2 separate regions of the Homo sapiens genome follow, and region 1 is linked to region 2. Evidence: fine-mapped expression QTL. Tissue or cell type: whole blood. Region 2 holds a variant in brackets; the other region holds the start of a gene. All regions are shown on one strand. Distances are between the middles of the regions.

Region 1 (9,812 bases), 31 kb before region 2:
AGCCCACTAGGCCTGCTCCAGTGACTTCTAGGTCCAGGGTGTTCTGCCAGTTTTCCCAGACCACACACAAACCCTAGGCTCCTCACACCCAGGCTGGGACCCCTCATGCCCATGTCATACTGTCCAGCCATGAAACCAAGCAGGCATTCTCTTAGGGCTTCTAGAGGCCAGGGCCCTCAAAGTGTCTCCTGCCTCCCCGTGTCATCTGGGATTCCAACAGCAGTGGGAAGATTTTATACACTAGGAAATGGTCCAGGGGAGGAGACTCAACTTGTCAGTGTCACACAGCCCAGGAAGTGACAGTCTCCAAAGCCCCAGGCACTTTCCACACCTTGGAACCTGCAAGGAGCGGTAGGCTGAGTTTAAGATTCAAGGACCTACCCACCCTTTGCTGCTCAAGATAAACTTAAAGGCTACTCAAGAGCCTGTGGGTGGGGCCTGGAGTGGTCAGACTGCCCTTATGGTTTTGCCATCTGTGCACTGCACAAAGAAGTTGGGGGCTAGTTGGGGCTGAAATCTGGTTAGTGTAAACAGCAGGGCTGCATCCATGGAAGGAGGAGGTACTCTGTGTGTGTGTGTGTGTGTGTGTGTGTATGTAAAGGTGACTTGAGAGAGAGAGTGTGTGTGTGTGTGTGTGTATGTGTGTGTGTAAAGGTGCCTTGAAACCTGGATTTTAGCTCACTGGGTTGGTTCTATGGCAAAAAGAGCAATTACTTTTGCACCAACCTAATAATTCTGCACAGTCACCATAGGGTTTAGAGAGCAGCCTGGGAAGGTGGATATAAAGTTAACATGGCAAATAATTTGCGTCTTCAGGGCCAATTCCAGCATCTCATTAGTGGTGACGTGGGGTGCTGTATTGAGCAGGAACCTGAAGTCTTGCCTGGGAAGGGGATCCGCACTCAGAGAGGTCTGTCCTGGGTGGGGGATGGGGCAGTGGTGCCTGTAAGGAGAGTATTTGCCATTTTGCCATCTCTGCTGTAAACTGACACCTTCTGTGTCAACACACAGTCCAAAGGAACCCAATGCCCAGCCCTGGCCTAAAGGAGAGGCAAATCTTAGCTTTGTCAGTGTGTGCTTTGCTATTTATTCCTGACACATGGAGTGTGGGTGGTTTGAAGAGGGTTAGGGGTTCCTTCACCTGATAAATCACCATGGGGCGTTTTTTACAGAAATGAGAAGCATCAATTTGCACAGGATTGTGAAGCCCCATCTTCTGCCCCTGCTCATCTCTGCTTGCCTCCTGGGCTGAATTTGAAGGCTGACTCCCTCATAAAGACCAACTGCTTCCTCTTCTTGCCCAGGTTTCTCCTGCTTCTCTGAGCTCAAGGCTCTTGGTTTGATACTCCACCAAACACTTATCAGACCTGTTACCTGGGCAACTTTAGGAGCAGACTTTTTCCTACTTGTCCCCTCCTGCCCACATTTCTCCAGATAAATTGAATATTACTGTTACTGCAAGTATCAATATCACCCTCCCGTCACGCATGACTGCCTACTCACTCAGGGAACAGCAAAGCTCCTTCCTCTTTGCATCCTCCTTGGATCCTGTCAGTCACTGTAGAAGTTGGTAAGGATGGGATCAACATTCCCATCTGATACCTGGAAAAACTGAGGTTTACAGAGAGGGCAGGCCTACCCAAGGTCACTGGGCCAGGTCTTTCCTCCAAATCTTGTGTTCATTCCACTGACCCATTCTGGAGACTGTGGGATGGCTGGAGCCACTGGACAGGGAAGGGGACAGGGATGTGAGCCTCACCTGGGTGCTCCCTCCTGCCTTCCAGTCTGAGGACAGTATATGGGGCCAGAGCTGCCACACCTGAATGCTGCCACACTGGGATCAATGAAGAGAGAGCTGGGAGGTAGTAGTGGGTTAGGAGCAGGTGGCTTAGCTATCAGGTTTACTGAGAGACCCTGGGATGGTTCTTTTCCTTCTCTGGGCCATGGTACCTCCTCCTTTGTAAAGTGAGGGCTTGGAACCTCTGACATTTTAAATGCAGAGTTCCTTAGTGTGCACATGATAGGGCAAGAAGGTGCAGAGTTTGGGCGTGGCCCGGTCTTCTGGCCTGGTACCTAGGCCTCTGATACCCATCTGGTCACTCTCACCTATTACCCTCTCCCACCGTACATGTTGTTTCAGGGGATCCTGGAGCATGCATTCCCAGCAGCTGGCTGAGGGCTGACCTTAGGTCAATCAGTTGCCATCCAGGCAAACTGCCTATAGGATGCTCATATTTATTAGTCACCTACTGGGTACAGAGCCCACATGTTGAGCAGCTGTCCTGTGGGCAAGGAGAGGGAGAAAAGTACAAAACCAAAGAAGCCGCTCAGGCTTCAAAGAGGAGCAAAATCTGGGCATCCATGCGTCTCTCCACCTATTCATTCAATCATCAACCCAGCAACTATTTCCTGATTATTTACTATCTATGCTCCAGGCTCTGGGTAGAAACTATGTTGGGGAGAAAGAGGCAGAGGCCATCAATGTGGTCACCAGGCATGATAAACACCTTCTTGGCATCAAATCACTCTGAAGGACACAGGGAAGGATCAGAGGTTTCTCTAAGCAGGTGTCAGATTCCTAGTTATGTCCCCTCCCTGAACAGCAGTTTTCTCTATAAAATCTAGGGAAGGTCTTATCAGTGGTTCCAAATCCTACCTCCATCCTTGGAAGCTCAAAGACAGCAGCAGAGTTCCAGAGATAATCCCAACTATTTCTTTTGGTGTGGGGGCGGGGGGTACAAAGTTTCACTCTGTTGCCCAGGCTGGAGTGCAGTGGCATGATCTCGACTCACTGCAGCTTCCACCTCCTGGGCTCAAGTGATCCTTCCACCTCAGCCTCCTGAGTAACTGGGACCACAGGCATGCGCCACTACGCCCGGCTAATTTTTGCATTTTTTTGTAGAGATGAGGTTTTGCCATGTTTCCAGGGCTTGTCTGGAACTCCTGGGCTCAAGCAGTCTGTCTGCCTTGGCCTCCCAAAGTGCTGGGATTACAGGTGAGCCATTTGCAAGAACCGTGTACCTACTCTTTAAACAAATAGGTTTAATACTGTTTAAAAATATAAAGGGTACTGTATAGATGTGTTCTTGATGAATGAAAATATGAAGACATGATTGATACATATGCTGTCGTTTGTATTAATAACTGCAAATTGATAGACAAGATGGAGATCTGAGATCCAAGGGCCTCTTGGTTGGTGAAAAAGGGTGGCATTTGGTCATCACTGAAGGCCTTCGTGGTGCGAGCGACCATAGATGTGGTTAGGTGCCCTGCAGGTGATGTGAGTAACTCGTGGAGTGGGTGGCGGGGAAGAGCTGTCCTTTATGGAATATCTTCCGCTTACCAAACCCAAGCTGGGAAGCACACAAATGTCCCCGGCGGCGGGAGGATGACTGCTCCCATTTTACAGAGGAGAAAACAGGCTTGCTCGCAGAGGTTAGGCGTCATGCAGAGGTCATTCCGCTGGACGGTGGCCAAGCTGGCACTCCAACGCTGGGCGGAATGGCTCCAGAGCCAGACTGAAAGTGGGAGAGGTGACTCGGTCCCAGCCAGGCGGTGAGTTCCTCTGGGCTAGGTCCCCGGTGCTGGCGCAGCAAAGACCACCCGGAGAAAGAGACGGTGAAGGCCCCGGGGCTTCCTGGGGCGTCAGGCGGAGGCGGAGGCGGGGGCGGGGCTCCCTCCAGGCAGTCTTGGACTAGCTGAGTTGTCCCAGCGAGATGGGTGACAGCCGCTTTCCCGAGCTCCCCCGGCCCAGGCTGGTGTCCTGGCGACTCGCCAAGGCACCGGGGCGGGCTAGGGCTGGAGCCGGGGTGGAGGAAGAGGGTCGAGAAGCGAGGCGGGCCCAGAGCAGAAATAGGAGAAGGGGGGGGGGAGGGGGCGGGGAGTCTTTCCTGGGGCAGGAACCCGGGCCCCCCTTGGCGCAGCCGGCCCGCAAAGTGATTCTGCAGATGGAAGGAATTAAGTAGGAGGGGGAGGGTCCGATGGTGATAGCGAGAGGAGGGAGTTAGAAGTGTGTGCGTCTGTGTACACGCGTCTGAGAGAGGAGCGGGAGAGACAGGGAGAAACATCAGACCAGACGGAAATAGAAGAAAGGAGACAAGAAGAGTGAGAGAAAGAGAAGGACATACACACACACACACACACACACACACACACGGAGGGCGCCACATACAAGGACGACGGACACAGGAGACTAGTACTAGTCTAAGAGAGAGAGAAAGAAGGAGTATGAGAAAGGAGGGAAAATAGGAAAGGAAAAGTGAGTGAAAAACAATTGCAGAGGATTTGGAAAGAACGAGACAAGAGCGCTGACGACAGAGGGAGACGAAATTGATTAGGCCGGGGCTGCACTGAGCTCCCGGCAGCTCGGGGAGCTGGGTTGGCCGGGCTGGGACGAGGTGGGGCTTGGGCGGGGCCTCGCATGGGCGGGCCCGCGCCGTGCTGCATATGCAGATGAGCCTCACTCCCCTCTCTCCCCACCCCTGACGGTTCATATTCAACGAGACAGCCAATGCAGGGCGAGGACAGTGCCAGGCGGGGCAGGGAGTGGGCGGCGGGGCATCGTGGACCCCACCCCCGGAGCCGCCGCTGGAGGGGTCAGCCGCGAGGCAGATAGCGGATCGCCGGGCGGGGCGGGACGCAGTGGGCGGGGCGGAGGGGCGGGGCCAAAAGTTTCCTGCCCAACTTTCGCTGCCTCCTTCCACCGCCTGCGCGCGCCGGGGCCGCAGTCGGGGGGAGGCGGCGGCAGCGGCAGCGGCTGCGGGCAGCGCGCGGGGCGCAGGGCGCGGGGCGATCACCGTCGGGGCTCGGGAGGCGGGCAGTGGGCACAGGCTCCCCGGTGCCCGCCCCTCCGCTGCGGAGGGGGGCCGCGAGCGGGCGGCCGGGGAGGGGCCGGCACCGCCGCCACAAAATGAGCCTGCTGTCGGCCATCGACACGAGCGCCGCCTCGGTGTACCAGCCCGCCCAGCTGCTCAACTGGGTCTACCTGTCGCTGCAGGACACGCACCAGGCTAGCGCCTTCGATGCCTTCCGGCCCGAGCCGACCGCCGGCGCCGCACCCCCGGAGCTGGCCTTCGGCAAGGGCCGCCCCGAGCAGCTGGGCTCGCCCCTGCACTCCAGCTATCTCAACAGCTTCTTCCAGCTGCAGCGCGGAGAGGTGGGTGCCCCCGCGCGCCCCCGCCCACCGCCCCACCGCCCCACCGCCCCACCGTGGCGGGCCGTTCCCTGTCTGACCCGCTCTTCCTGGCCTGGCGCGGCCCGGCTCCGCATTGCCGGGCCCGGCTTGGCTTGGCTTCGTTCAACTCTGCCAAACTCGCCGCCCGAAGTCCCCGGGGTGCCGGGTGCGCGTCACCTCCCGGCTGAGCCCGGGCTGGAGCAATGCAGGCCGGGGCGGAGCTCTCCCGCCCCCTCTCCCTGCCAGGGCAGCCCTGCTCCAAAGGGGTTGGGGGAGGGAGTTGAGGAGGGGTTGTCTCCGGATTTTCTTCAGACAGCTGGGGTGCGGCCTGGGCGGGGAGCCCCTTCGAAGTGTCCTTCTCACGCCCAACCTTATCCTCGTCCTGGCCACCGCGGGCTGGGACCGAGAGTGCAGATTCTGCTCGGAGCTCCTCTGGAAGGGCCTAAAATCTTTTCTCCGACCTCTGCGGTTCCCGACCCGAAAGGCACCCTGGAGAGCAGTGACTGCCCAGAGGGCTTCTCCTGCTGTTCTCACTCGGGGACCCCAGATACGTCCTCCAGCTGCTCGCCCTCCCCCAGCCACATAGGAAGTGGTTTCTGAGGGCTTGACCCCACAGACTGCGCTGTCCCCAGCCCTCCCAGCCTCGAAGGAAATGAAAGGGAAATCCTCTTGAGCTCTTGGGAGGGGGGCTAGAAAGGGGGGGGGAGAGGTTCCAGCTGCCCAGCGCCTTCTGCAGAAACCTGGGCCGGCTGTGTTGCAAAGTCTGCCTGTTTGGTGGATTCAGTTACAAAGTTGACTGGGCAGCGCCTCTTTGCCAGCAAGATAAATACACAGATCGCCACCACCTCCCAGCCCTTTTTGAAGAGTCTCCAGGGCCTGCCCAGATACCACTCCTTTCCGTGGGCTGGACTCCTCCCCTCCCTCCATTTACTCCTGCCTCATTTGGGAATTTCAGACACCCATCTGTGGCCTTCACTTCCTCCCCTTGTGGGGGTTTTCTCTGCAAAGATGCAAGAGGTGTGTTCGGGGGAGGACACACATGGGGGTCACTTTCCTTCCAGACCTGGGCACACCGGTGAGTTTTAGGAGAGTCAGAGTCCTGAATGGGTTGGGGAGGAAAGCCTATGTACGCAAGGGTGTGCTGGGGGTAAGAGAGGGAGGCAGAGGGTCGCCCTTGAGTTCAACTCTGCCATTATTTACTAGGGGAGGCATGGACATATAAAATGCTGGCCCAAGGCCAACACTACCCAGGCTGACCTGTTGACCTGGGTGGGTAGAACAGGCGTGGGAGGGGGCTGGGTGCAGAGGAGGAAGATGAGTCTGAAAGTGCACCCTTTGGTGTCAGGCAAAAGCATTTCTATGCCAAAGCTCTTTGTAAACTGTAAAGCATTCTCTCCACGTGAGGAATGGTTCTTGGCTGGGGATCTTTCTTTCTTGTAAGAGACTTTTCTGCCTCTTCAGGGAATTGGCTTCAGGTGACCAGTGACTGGAGGACCGTTTGTGGGGTGTTTCTTTGGTGCATGCGTCTTTTCAGTTGTTTGTTCTCTTACCAAACATTTGTTGAGCTCTGGGCAGGACCCGGGGATTCACAGCCACAGGCTAGTGGGGGCCACGGATGAGTAAACAGACAAGGTGATAGAGGGTATGAATGGTGGGTGATTTGATGGGGGTGCTTGTGGGAGCCCCACGGGAGTTTCTCACCCTGGGAGAAGGGTGAACATGACCCACAGGTCAAGTGTGGACCCCTAATCAACCTCTTCTAGCCTCCCTCTGCTCCCCCTACCATGGTGGCATTGTTCCCCACCTGTGGGTCTCCCCTGAGAGGACCTGGGAGTTTGGAACCATCAAGAGTACCCTATAAGAATAGGATGTTGTGCTGCTTTTTGAAAATTTCTGGCATCCAGGATCCCAACCGGAGCTCAGTGAGAACTGCCCTCTGTCACTTCATTGCTGCGTACCTCAGTTTCCCCATAAAGTCACACAGTGTGAAAGGAGCAGGAAAAGGTTATACTGTATAGTGCAGTGGTGGGGAAATGTCTTTCACAACCTGACTTCAGGGAACCCCGTCTCTCTCTGGGCCTTAGCTTACCTATCTGTTAAATTTAGTCTCTGCTACACCCCAGGATGGTATATCTATAGTATTTGAGACCTGTTCAAACAAGAGAGGGCTGGGGGAGTCAAGAGGGGCTTCTCTGATGTTCACAGGCCAGTGGCTTCCTCGGAGGTGATGGAGGGCTGTGCCTGCTGACTTCCGGAAGGCTCTCTTGGCTTCAGGCTCACTCATCCTCACCCCCCACCCACTTTGCCTCCTAAACCCTCTCAAAGCCTCAGCTGTGTTCCTGAGGACAGGCCTTTCCTGCGCCCAGGGCTTAGCTGGTGACCTAATATGGCTCCAAAATAGCAACTGGCTGAGAAGGCAAGAAAAAATACCCCCCACCCCAATGCCACCAAGGGGCTGGTCGGAGAGGAAGCAAGTCGTGTGTGGGCCGGAGGGGACTCTACGGAGGGACCCAGGGGGCCCAGGAGCATCACCATTCTGTGCGAGGCCTGGCAGGCCCAGTGGCAGTGCCTGCGGATGTGACTTGCATGCTGACCACTGACCACGGCCTGTCTGCGCCAACCCCTGTGCCAAGAGCCCACCCCCTCCTGCACCACCCCCAGGCTGCTCCCACCACAATAGCAAAACACCATGAATGCAGCTGGGATTTGAGGGGGGGTGAGGACATGGGGGCACAGAAGCCCATTGTGCCCCTGGAACCTCAGCTCTGGAAGCTGAAGATAAGCCAACGGTTCTGAGTGGCACACTGGCCCTGAGAGCAGAGAGAGAGATGGCAGAGTTCACACCAGAGTTCCTGGTGCAGGAGCAAGCACCAGGAGGTGACTTGGATTCTTGTGGGGACTTCCCAGCTTGTGGTGAGGGTGCCAGGCCAAAGCGGACACAAGCACCTTGCACAGTTTCTTAAAAGGCTTCTGGGTCTACAAACTAGGCCCCGTGAAACCCAGTTTCAAAAACCTGATCTACGGCAACAACGATACATTTTTGGAAAGGGATTCCTAAGGCCCTTGGCTGAGCCCCTTCTCTCTCTCCAGGTACCCAAGGAAGGCAGTTCTTAGATGGAGTAGGGGCTGGGCTGCATGGGGTCTTCCCTGCCAAGTCTTGTTTGGAACTTAAATTCACAACCGTAAAGGGGCTATGGGAGTCATTTCTGGAAAAGCTGAGTTACCTCCTTGTGAAGATGGCCTCTTGGGCCCCTTGAAGGGCTGCCCAGAGCCCCTGCCAGGTAGTCCCTGTACCCTCCAGCCTCCAGGGAGATGTGGCTGTCTCACTCCATTCAGGTAGAATTCTTAGGGCAGCTGTTCTCTTTCCCTCTTTCTCCAGGGACAGACGTAGCTGGAAGGTGTGGCCCTACTGTCAAGAGACCCCCACTTTGTGAATGTTGGGGGAGGGACTTTGTGGTCAAATACATTTGGAAGACACAGTGTCCTTCCTTTCCCTTGGAAACACACAGTGCCCACTAGCACAGGAAAGGCCCTGAGAACTCCTGCAGTGCAAAACCTGTTAACCTTTCTTCAGCTTGACAGTTCCCACACCTATTTGAGCAGAGAACATTTTTGGCTCAGGACACCTGTCAGTGTCCTTCCTGGAAAACCTCTTCATTGTTGGATAGTTCCAACCTTTAGGAAGCTCTTCCTAGAGCATCAGCCTCTGCAGCAATGAACCTCCTCTTTGCTGCTCAGGTCTACCCATTGGAGGTTTGAGAACAGTAGCAAGGGTGTCACAAGGCTTAACAAATGGCCTTTCCCTGGGCCCAGCCCTTCTGTATGGACATGGCCATTAAAACCCTTAGAGGAGTACATACAGTGTCCTCCTTTAAAAGGCCCCAGTCTTGACAGTTTTCCGAGGGTTTGGATGTGCCCTCAACAGACGGAGATAAGCCCACGGGCTGCCTGACCAGTGTGGATGTGTGGAACAAAGCCACATTTCTGCCCAAGAATATGAGGTGCCTATGTTCGAGAGTGGGCTTAAGGAGCTCAGGTGGGTTCCCAGCAGCCTTTGTGGTGTGTGTGTGTGTGTGTGTGTGTGTGTGTGTGTGTGTTTAGGGGGCAGCTCCAGGGCCTGAGAGTAATGGCCATTCTATCCCAGCCCAGAGTTCGGGAGGATGCTCCCAGCTCTCTTGGCCACCCTTGGGAAGCTGAAGTGTGACTCAGGCAAGGAGGACCGTCATTTGAGAAGCTGTTGGCTGAGGCAACCTGACCCTCCCTCTGTCAGATTACGTTGACTGGACAGGCATGGACTCAGAGGGAAGACCACACCTCGTGGACCTTCTGAGTCAGGTGGGAGGGAGGAAAGCAGACAGCATTAGTAATCAGTAAGTGGCAGCAGCAGGGAGCCAGATGCTGTCAGTACCCAGAGGAGGGCTCCGGGAGGAGATGGCCCTAGTGGAACAGTCCTCTGCTCTTGGGTGGTGCTCTATTCATGGCCTCTCTTTCCTCATAGCTTCCATTTTTTGCAGAAGAGGACACAGAGGCCTGGCAAGTCACCTAGCCAGTCAGTGGGAGAGCTAGATCTAGAATTCTTCTGTGTTCCAGCTACGGGTTGCATCTGCGACCCGTCCTGCAATTGGTCCCCAGATTTGCT
Region 2 (9,812 bases):
TTCTCCCTGACCCACCCCTGCAGCTGCTTAATTTCATGCATGCACGCAGACACATATGTGCACACATGCAAACGTGCGTGCATGCACACACCCCTTGGGCTTCTCAGCCTCAAGGCCTTGCTCACACTGTCCCCGAGTCTGCAATGCCTTTCCCGAATCTCTTCTCTCCTATCCCCCTTTCAGAGCCCAGCTTGAGCCCACCTCTCTCAGGGAGTCTTCCCCAACCATCCAGGGCCTCAGAGCTCTCCTCTCTGAACCCTAACTTGTCAGGACAGCACCCCTTCCCCAGAACCTGGTTTTAAGGCCCTCAAGAGGTAAGAAATCTCAACCAGGTTTCTCATCTTTCCCCCATCCCCATCTGGCCCCTAGGGGACAGAGAATGCCCCTCTTTGGGTGGGCTTCACTCTGCCCTGCCCCAGTCCTGGAAGGTAGCCCAGCCTGGGCCGTTTGACCTCTGCTCAGCCTTCTCATCCCCACTCCACCTGTGCTATGGCCTTAGCCAGTGACTCTCTCATCTCCCCCAGGTTCAGCCCAAACACGTCCTCTTGCATGGTGCAGCCCCTATGCCCTTCTATGCCCCATGTGCTCCTGCCTTGGTGAGTCGTGCCTAGCCCAGGGCCGGTCCTGGCACAAGTCTGTCTCCTACTTCCTGAGGTCACTTCCCAGGCGAGGTCTGTGTCTGCCTGGCAGGCAGAGGGAGCATGGCCTTGGGGTCAGAAGGCCCGAGCTCTCATCCCAGGGCTGTCTCTCTAGCTGTTCAACATTGGCCAAGTTGACCTTACCCTTGGGCCCCCACACCCCCATGCATGAAGTGGCATCAGCAATGAAGCCTGTCTCTCAGGGCTTCTGTGAGATCCAGAGGCGATCAGACAGGTGAACGCGCTTTGAGAACTGTGAAGTTATACCATTTGCTCCACTGCCCAGCGAGCAGCCACATTTGCTGAGATGATCAGAGGTGTGCGAGCGAGGGTGTTTAGGCCTTGGTGGCTGCTGTGAGCTGACCCCTGCCTCAACTGCCATGGGGTCTTGGAGGCATATTTGTGAGGGCAGCATTTTCCCTTTCCACCATGTCTGGGGTGGCTGCCCAGGGTGGAGCCTGTGTTGGGTGCCTCCTGCTCCCAGTGGCTTTGTGTGGAGTGGGAGGTGGCCCAGCTGGGGCAAGGTGGCCAGATCCCAGCCTGTGGGTTAGAGGACTTGGCACCACTGACCTGGCCTGACTTGGAGACATGGCTCCTCAACACACCGCCCCCACTCCCTCCCATTCCAAGGCTCAGGGCTCAGAGAAACGGGGCAGCAGGTGCAGGGAAGAAATGTGCATGGAATGGGGGTGAGGAGCCCGAGGACATCAGGCCTTCCTCATGCCTGGCTCACGGAGCACCTTCGTCTCATTTGCTGGCTGGGTTCTTACACTCACCTGGATGTCATCTGTGGCCCATGTGCCCACTCTTCTTCTCTTTCTTCATCTCTGTCTCTCATCCTTTCTTCCTCTTTTCTTTTGTAACAGATTACATAACTTGCCCCTGGTCCCACAGCTGGTTAGGATCAGGCCAAGTCAGTCTGACCTTAGGCCGTGCCTTTCCCACTGCTCCCTCTGCCCACAACAACGGATGGGGGTCCATCCTCTAGGACATGCTGTAGACCTGCTGATCTCCAGCCCTGGCAGAAATCAGGCTGCAGGAGGCACTGTGAACCCAGGCCTTCCTCCCTGCCTGGCTTCCTCCAAGTTCCCTGGCTGTGTGGGAGCCACAGGTCTCTCCCTGACAGGTTGGGGTGATGGTGAGGTGGAGGGGTGCCCCCAAAGCAGTAGGCATGATGACAAGGGGTAAAACCCAACAGGGGCCCATGCTCCTCTGCTCCTTCCTGGGGACTGTGAAGCTCAAACAGAGCCTTGTGCCCCTCCCTCCCGCAGGCCCTCTGAGCCCTCCCCATGCATCAGTCCTCCCTCTGTGTTCCCAAAACACCCTGCACAAACGGCTTAGTATTTTGTATTCTCTTTTGATTGTGATCCCGGGGAGGGGGAAGGCTGGCAGAAAATCACTTAGCGCAGCACCTGGCACATAGTGAGTGCTCAGCAAGTGTGAGCCATTGCGTTGCTGTGGCTTCAGTGCGCCATCCACAGTGTCTGCCGTGGTGCCCACTCTGAGCAGGGCCCCGTCATAAGGGAAACATATTAACAGCACAGCAGCTACACGCACAGGGAGCGCTCACTGTGTTCCGGGCACTGCTCTGAGCACTTTTCACCCATTGACTCCTCTAATCTTCTCATGGCCCTTGTGCTGGACACTCTTCTTATCCCCATTGCACAGAGGAGGAAACTGAGGCACAGAGAGGCTAAGTGACTTGCCGAGGGTCACACAGCTTGGACATGTTCCCCAGCAGTCTTGCTTCAGAGGCTGTGCTGTCATAAATATGTGCAAAAAAAGGAAGAAATGAACAAGACTCAGGATGTGGAGGAGGAAAGAAAGGCAGGGAGCTAATGTTGACTGAGCATCCTCCATGTACCAGCACATCACTGATGTCTTCAGAGACGTCAAGGGATTCGCCCAGAGTCACACAGGAGCCAAGGGCATGGCTGGGATTTGAGCCCTGGGTGATTTCTAATCCCCTCCTCCCCACCTTATCCCACCAGCTCAGGCCTCAGAGAGCCAGCACAGTTCATCAAGGGCCCCCTGGACACCCCCAGCAGCCTTGGACCACATAGCTGAGTTGGAGGCAAGACAAGGAATTACTCAGTGAGGCCACTCATTACCAACGCGTTTGGTTCTAACCAGCCATAGGTGAGGAGTTTAGAGGAAGGAGCAGAGCCAAGTGGGCGACCTTGAATAAGCCCATTGCCCTTGCCACACCTCAATTTCCCCTTCTGTGCAGTGGACCCAGCAATATGCATCCTGTCCCTCTAGGCTGCCGTGTAGGTCTTATGAGCTAACAAAGCTGGAAATGACGAAAGCCAAGCTGAACAAAAGTTAAGAGCTTTGTAGGAATAAAAATACTTTTATTTATGAACATCTAAAGGCTTTGCCTAAAAGTGTGGTCAGTGGACCGGCAGCAGTGGCAGTACCTGGAGCTTATCAAAAATGCGCAGCCCGGGTCCTCAGGCTCCACCCCAGTCCTGCTGGGTCAGAGTCTGCATTTTCACAAGCTTCCCCCATCACCCATGGGAAACACTGGTCTAGGAATTTCTTGCTTCTCAGTTCCCCATTCCCGGAGGCTGCCTCTTGGGCCTTCTTTCCATAGCCTACAAGGGGTTCTTGGCAGGAAATTCCCATCTCGTTGGAGAAAATGCTGTGGCCCAGCCAGACCCCTGCCCTGCTCAACTGCCTAGGAGATATGAGTGCATCAGAATTAAGCTGAAGTTGGGCAGAGGCTCTAACAGCCTCTGTCACTCCAACAACCTCTGATGAGACCATTTGTTGGGAGTGCAGCTGCCACCAGAATCAACAAGGCCTTTCAGACCTGGGAGAGGGTGCAGGGAGGAGTGAGGGGGTACCCTCAGCCTGGGCTCAGTAGGGCTAGGGGTTTCTTCTGAACAAAGGGCATTTGTACCAGATATTCTCCACCTTCACCCAGGAAGGCAAAAGGTTGAAACCGCAGTTGGAATATTCCAGGTTAGAAATAAGAAGCAA[C/T]GTCCCAACTGATCAGGAGCAAGCCAGCCAAGGACACTGAAGACTCCATCCCCTTAAATGTGTGGCCAGTGTGTGTGAGGTCAAGAGGCAGAGCTGGAACGGATTCCCAGAGGCCCTCTGCCCACCGTCCTGCCCTGAGACCATTTTGACTTCAAGGGGCCAAGGGACTCACCTAAGGTCACATAGCAAGGAGCCCTGGGTTCTGATTCCCTGTGCCTGGGGCCCCTCTTCATTGCAGGCCTTCCTGGAGGCTGGGGAGTGACCTTGATGACCTTAGCAACCTCCCTTGAAGCAGCCTGGAGGTTTTGAGCATGTCAATGGGAGGACGGGAGGGGCTGGCTTTGTGAGCCTAGCAACTCAGTGTGTCTCACTGTGTCTTAGCCTTCATGGTACCCAAGATCATTAGGAATACCCCAGGGGCAGAAGTCCTCTGAGACAGATGCGGTGAGTCAGGGACAGGAAACCTGGACCCAAGGGGTCCAGGTAGAGGAAGCAAGTAGAGGCTTGGGAGGCCTGACATTGATGAAGAGCCTGGGGACCAGTGCTGTGTATCCTTAGGCCAGTTACTTGCAGTCTCTGTTTCCCTATGTGTAATATGGAGGAGAGGTTAGACAAGATCAGTGATTCCATCTCGGGCTTCACATTAGAACCACCTGGGTTTTTTTTGGTTTTGGTTTGGTTTTTGGTGCTAGAAATTTGAATTCAGTAGATCCAGGGTGGGCCTGGCCAAGGGCATATTCCTAGCTCCCCAGGTAATTCTGACGTGCAGCTGGGCAAAAGCACCATTGCCAGGTCTGAGATGGTGGGGTGCTCTGGCAGCTGTGGTGGCTGCAGGTGATCATAACCACAATTATCCTCCTGAGGTCCTGGGAATGCAAGATTACAAGGTTCCGGGAGACTCCCAAATGAACATTCCAGAGGTTCTAGATATCCAGAGGTTCCAGATGTTCAACCTCAGATTCCCTAGGTCATGTGACTGCAGCTTTATTATTCTGAGAAGTGAAGCTTCCCACAATGGAGGATTCTGACACTTGAGTGTTCTGGTTTTGTGACTTTAAGAGTGTGAGATTCTATAATCATTCTGTATACCTCAAGTACGTGCTTCTGAAACCTTCCGTGTGTTTCTGTGTTCCAACTGCAGTTATTATTCTTCTCTAAAATGAAGATTCTCCATGTCTGTAATTCCAACACATTCATTATCCCAAATTCTAGAGACTCCAAGAACTTAAGCTATTGTGGCACTAATATTTTTTAAAATTCTAAATTCAGCAACTCTGTGACCTGTCATTCCATCTGGGCAGTTGGCCGCCAAGGCTTGGGCCCAGACTTTGTCTCCTTGAGACAAGGTGGTGATCGTATAAGCTGGGACACGTGCCCCCTCACCTCCTTGGCCTGGAGAGCCTGTCTTGGTGGAAGGGGTGAGGGTGGGGAGAACAGAGACCCCACGGAGCTCTCACTTCTTTGGCTCTTCCTCCAACACTGGCTGTAGAGGACTGGAAGGTGGAGCAAGTGTGAGGGGCACATGTGGCCATGCGGCAAGGAGGGCAGCAGGTGGACATACAGCTACATCCCCGAATTGCTGCTTGTATCCACCCATCTCACAGCAAAGCTGTGAATTCTCTGTGTCAGACTGGCTTAGACATTAGAGGCTATCACATCCGAAGCACCTCCCTAAACTCTCTCTCTCTCTCTCTCTCTCTCACACACACACACACACACATGCGCACGCACATATACCCTTTTTCCACCTAGGAAAACTAAGGCCCAGAAGGAGGAGGTGACATGCCTGATAGAGCTGGCATCCAAACCCAGGGCCCTGAACTCCCGGTTGTCATTGCATGGTCCTTTCCAGCTAGTCAGGCCCAGGTCTGGCTTTCTGCACAGAACCATCAGCTTTCTATAGCTGACTTTCAGGTCCCTCCAAGGGGACAGGGACCAGCCCGGTGACTCAGGATTACACATTTAAAGCCTGTAGCCTGGCGGATTTCACTAGGCCCAGGAGAGGCTCCCCCTGCCCCCGCATGACCTCCTGGCCGTTTCCTGCCTGCCTGACCACAGTCTTCCGTTCCACTCCCCCAGGACGGGTGCCCGCCTTGTGCCAGTGCACATCAGGCTCAGAGGCCAGGAGGCAGAGGCTGGGCTGGAGTCAGGCGTGGGGAGGGGTCCCGCCACTCACTCACTGTGTGACCTTGAAAAAGTCTCTCCACCTCTCTGGGCCTCTCCATGCTGTGGGCCGGTGGATGGTAATTGACAGAGTTACTGTGAGGATTAAATGAGACCCCAGGGGAAAACCCAGCATGCTGGGAGGGGAGGGGCAGAGGCTGGTCACATCCACCGCCCACTGGTCCCCTCAGCACTGAACCCATTTTGGATGAGTGGCTTGTGTTTGTTGAAGGTGTCTGGGTAGACTTCCATATAATCCTTCAGAGATAAAATGATGGATTGCAGACTCTCCTGGGCTTTCAGAAGGTTGGCTGGTAGAGGAGATAGAGTCCAAAGGCCTTGGACACCTGAGATTTAGGCAGATGTCCAGAAAATGGTGATGATGATGTTGATGGTGGCTATTGTTAACTGAATTCCAGCCATGTGCTTGGTACTCATGAGCTCCTTAAAGCTTCTCGACTGCCTGCCTGATCGATCTTATTATCCCTACTTACACGGGGGAAACCAAGGCTCAGAGCATTTCAGAAACTTGTCGAAGCTCTTGCCGCCAGTAATGGCTAAGTTGGGATTCAAACCCAGGTCTCCAGGACCGCACAGCCAGAGCTCTGTTTCACTTCGTACTCAGCTAGAAGAGGGGACGCAGGGCCACATGATGGATGGTGGCCATCTCTCTACGTGGCTGCAGGCAGTCCACGGCCAGGGAAATAGAAAGACATTTTCTAGAAGAGATGCTAGTGGTTGCCTGTTTTCCTCCCTCGGTGGGATTCTCCCAATTTTCCATGTGGCTATTTTTATCACTTTTAGAAATCTGGAGCTGCCTGTGGCTGCCCAGTCCCTGGAGATGGGTGGAACACACAGGGCTCTGCACAGCCACCCACACCATGTACGTACGCGGGGCTGCCAAGGGGCGAGGGTGTACACGGGCATGTCCGCCCCTCACCGATGCACCTGTGCACACTCGCACAGAGGCTCATGCCGCTGCAGGCTGCTGCCAAGTCCAGGGGACCCAAGAGCTTAGCAGGAAGCTCCTGAGCTACCTCCCTTGGGGTTCTGGAGCCATGGGTCTGCCTTGGCCACTCACTTCCTTGTCAGTTGACTTAAAACGGAGTTGGCAGGTCATGCCACGGTGCGTTCCGCTCGCTCCCTGTGTGCATGCATGCGTGTGTGCATGTGCAGCTGCAGACCTGTGCACACCCAGGCCCAGTTCAGGGCACAGGCTCAATGCCCCCTGTGGAGGCGTAGCAGGAAGTCCTTGCTCCAGGGCTTCTAAAAGCCAAGACTCCCCACGTGGTTCCTCCCACTCGCGAGATTCTGGCCTTCTGGGCTTCTGGGAGCCAGGGAAGGGCAGGAGAGACAGCCAGGGCTCTGTAAGGGGCACATGTGGGGTGCTCCAGGGACTGGGGACGGTGGACTTGCTGGGGGTCCTGCCCTGGCAGAGCAGGTCTCTGGGGCTGAGAAACCTTCTCAGAGTGGGATGGCAGGGTCCTGGGGCTGAGCATGGCACCTCCAGGAGGGGCCGAGGCCTCCTGGAGGTCTCCTGACCCTTCTTCTGTCCTCACAGTTGCTTCAGACTCTCCCTAGCACTGGCCTGGGATCCCAGGAGGCCTGAGCTTGGCCCTGCCTCTCACAGGCTGTGTGGGCTGGAGTCCCCTGGCCTTGGCCTCCTCCTCTGGAAAGTGGGGCACCCGTGGGCAGTGGAATGAGACTTTGGCAGTCCTGCTCTGTGCATATACTGGGCACACTGAGCCCTGGGAGGCTGGGGCCACCTTTCCCTCTAGAATCTGGTTCCATCCTCTCCCTCCTGGGTTTTCTTCCGCTGCAGACTCAACACCCCTTCCGTTGAGTCCTCCTTCATGGCTCTGAAGAATTGTTTTGGGGCCCAGCAGGCAACTTGGAACAGTGGGGAAAGCCCTGGCCTGCCACCGTGGCCTGTGTTCACATGGTTCCTGCTCTGAGCCTATTTGCTCACCTGCAGGGGAGTGTGTGTGTGTTTAATTATAGCACCATGCCAGGATGCCTGGCCACATTAGACTGTAAATCTAAAGACAGAGGTCAAGGCCTCTTTTTACCAGCCCCGAGGTGATTTTCAAATCAGCTTTAGGGTGGATCATACCCCCAAGGGCACCTTGAGCAGGCTCACATGACAGGTTTATAGGCGATTCCTGAGGACAGGAGCCAGGGCAAACAGTTATCATGAGGCTGCCATCCATCACTGTTGCCTGCTGTCCAGTGACGGCCAGTCCTCCTTCCGTCCATCACTGCCGGCACAAGACACCGTCATCACCTTCCCTTGCTCCACCCTGGCCTTGTCCCCCAGTCAGAGCCAGGGCAACCATGGGCCAAGAGGGGAGCTCCTGCCTCAGCCCCCACAGCCCCGCAGCTGATTGAGGCCACACACCTGGGAGTTGCTCTTGAGTCCTTGCTCTCCTCCCCCAAGGCTAGCCCAAGTGCTGCTGACTCAACCTCCTGCCATCTCAGGGGTCTCTCACTCTTCTCCCCTCTGCCACCCATCCCCAGACCACACCCCCACCACCTCTCCCCAGCAATGTGGCAGCACCCCCCTAACTGGTCCCCCCATGTCCAACCCCTCTGTCCACTCAGCAGCCAAAGAGATCTCACAATGCCAGGCAGACTTTCGCATTTTCAGCGCTTCCCTGGCTTCCCATACTCCTGGGCTGATATTTAACTCTAAGATATGGTCTAGGACCTGGACTGGCCTGGCCTCCAAGCCTCAAGCCCTCCATGCTTCCCGTGGTCTAGCCCTTTGCACAGGCTGCTCCAGCCCCACAGGGCCCTTTCCACTGTGACGTCACTCCTCCCCAGCCATGCTGGCCAGATGCTCCCAGAACATGGGGCTCTGCTCATCCTGAGCACATCCCAGAAGGCCAGATCAGTGTTCAAGCATGCTACTTTTGTCTGACTGGTCATCGTGTATTTATTGAGTACCTACTATGTGCCAGGTGCTGCTCCAGGCATGGGACATTCCATAGTGAACAAGAAAGATGAGGAAAGAATGCAGTTCCCAATCTTGCAGGATGACAAATAGTAAAGAAATTGACACCAATGGATATGCTATGGTGGCAGGTCATATTCAAAGACAGTTGTCAGGGATGGTGTCTCTGAGGACATGACAACTTGAGTAGAGACAAATGAAGCAGGAGCAAATGGTGTGGGCATCTGGGGGAAGGGTATTCCTGGCAGAGGGAACAGCAAGTGCAGAGGCTCTGAGTGAGGCACAGATGTGCTTGGCTTGTTTGAGGAAGAGCAAGAGGGCCAGAATGGGCCTCCTGACAGCTCCAGCTCAGAGGGAGAGTTGGCTGGGAGGGGAGGGGCGGAGGCACAGGGTTGAACGCATCCCCTGCCTTGCTCTCCCTTCTCCCGCCTCCTCCCCCAGCTGGGCAGCTCTTCTCTGGGGGACACAGATGGGTGCTTGTCTTGAGAGCCCCCGTCCTCCCCCTGCTCCTCCAAACACTCGCAGTGGGGACAGGAAGTGTCGGCCCTCGCCTTCCAGCTGCCCGGGTGGGACACCACTGAGCTGGGCTGGCCTGCTCAGGGAGGGACAGAGGCCCTATTGAGCCCGTTCCCTGGACCATCAGGGACAATAGCCACACTGAGGACCAGGAACAGCGACCAGCATGCTTGCCCAGGAAGTTGCCAGGCCGCTGCCTGCCCCATCCCCACACCTCCCCTACCCCTCTGGCTTTCTCTTCCAGATACTTCTCTCAGGCTGATAGTCATGTCCAAATGGTCACTTGCCCTTCACCTGCTCCCCAGAGCCCCCTGTCCTGTGCCAGACCCACGCTGGGCCCAGGGAATCAGAGGGGACCCCTACAGGGTCTCTGTCCCTGAGGAGAGGGCAGGGAAGGAGGTGACAGACACATGAGCTGAGAGGGGTGTATCCTAAGTGCTTCCTACAGAGATCCACAAGGTACAGGGGGTCCCTGGAGGGCAGGGGAGATGTCTGCTAGAAGTGCTGGTAGGAAAGGCTCCCTGGAGGAAGAGTCACAGTTCTAAAGAGCTTCCGCA

What was found. PIP is the estimated chance that this variant, and not a neighbour inherited with it, causes the effect.
Region 1: ZCCHC24 starts here. The variant in region 2 is fine-mapped to the expression of ZCCHC24 in whole blood (TOPMed, PIP above 0.99).

Annotation. Positions count from the first base shown.
Region 1 is chr10:79,440,538-79,450,349 of GRCh38, reverse strand. ZCCHC24 (zinc finger CCHC-type containing 24) reads left to right here and starts at 4,726. Exons shown (of 4, transcript NM_153367.4): 1 at 4,726-5,155. The coding sequence starts at 4,910. LOC105378383 (a long non-coding RNA gene) reads right to left here and starts at 4,109. Exons shown (of 4, transcript XR_946104.4): 1 at 1,504-4,109. RefSeq lists silencers at 4,294-4,803, 4,814-4,873.
Region 2 is chr10:79,409,292-79,419,103 of GRCh38, reverse strand. The region is part of intron 2 of ZCCHC24 (zinc finger CCHC-type containing 24); the gene reads left to right. Among named protein-coding and RNA genes, the nearest start is that of ZCCHC24, 31 kb to the left of the region's middle. RefSeq lists enhancers at 5,187-5,695, 5,696-6,206. The variant C/T (reference allele first, on the strand shown) is at 3,624.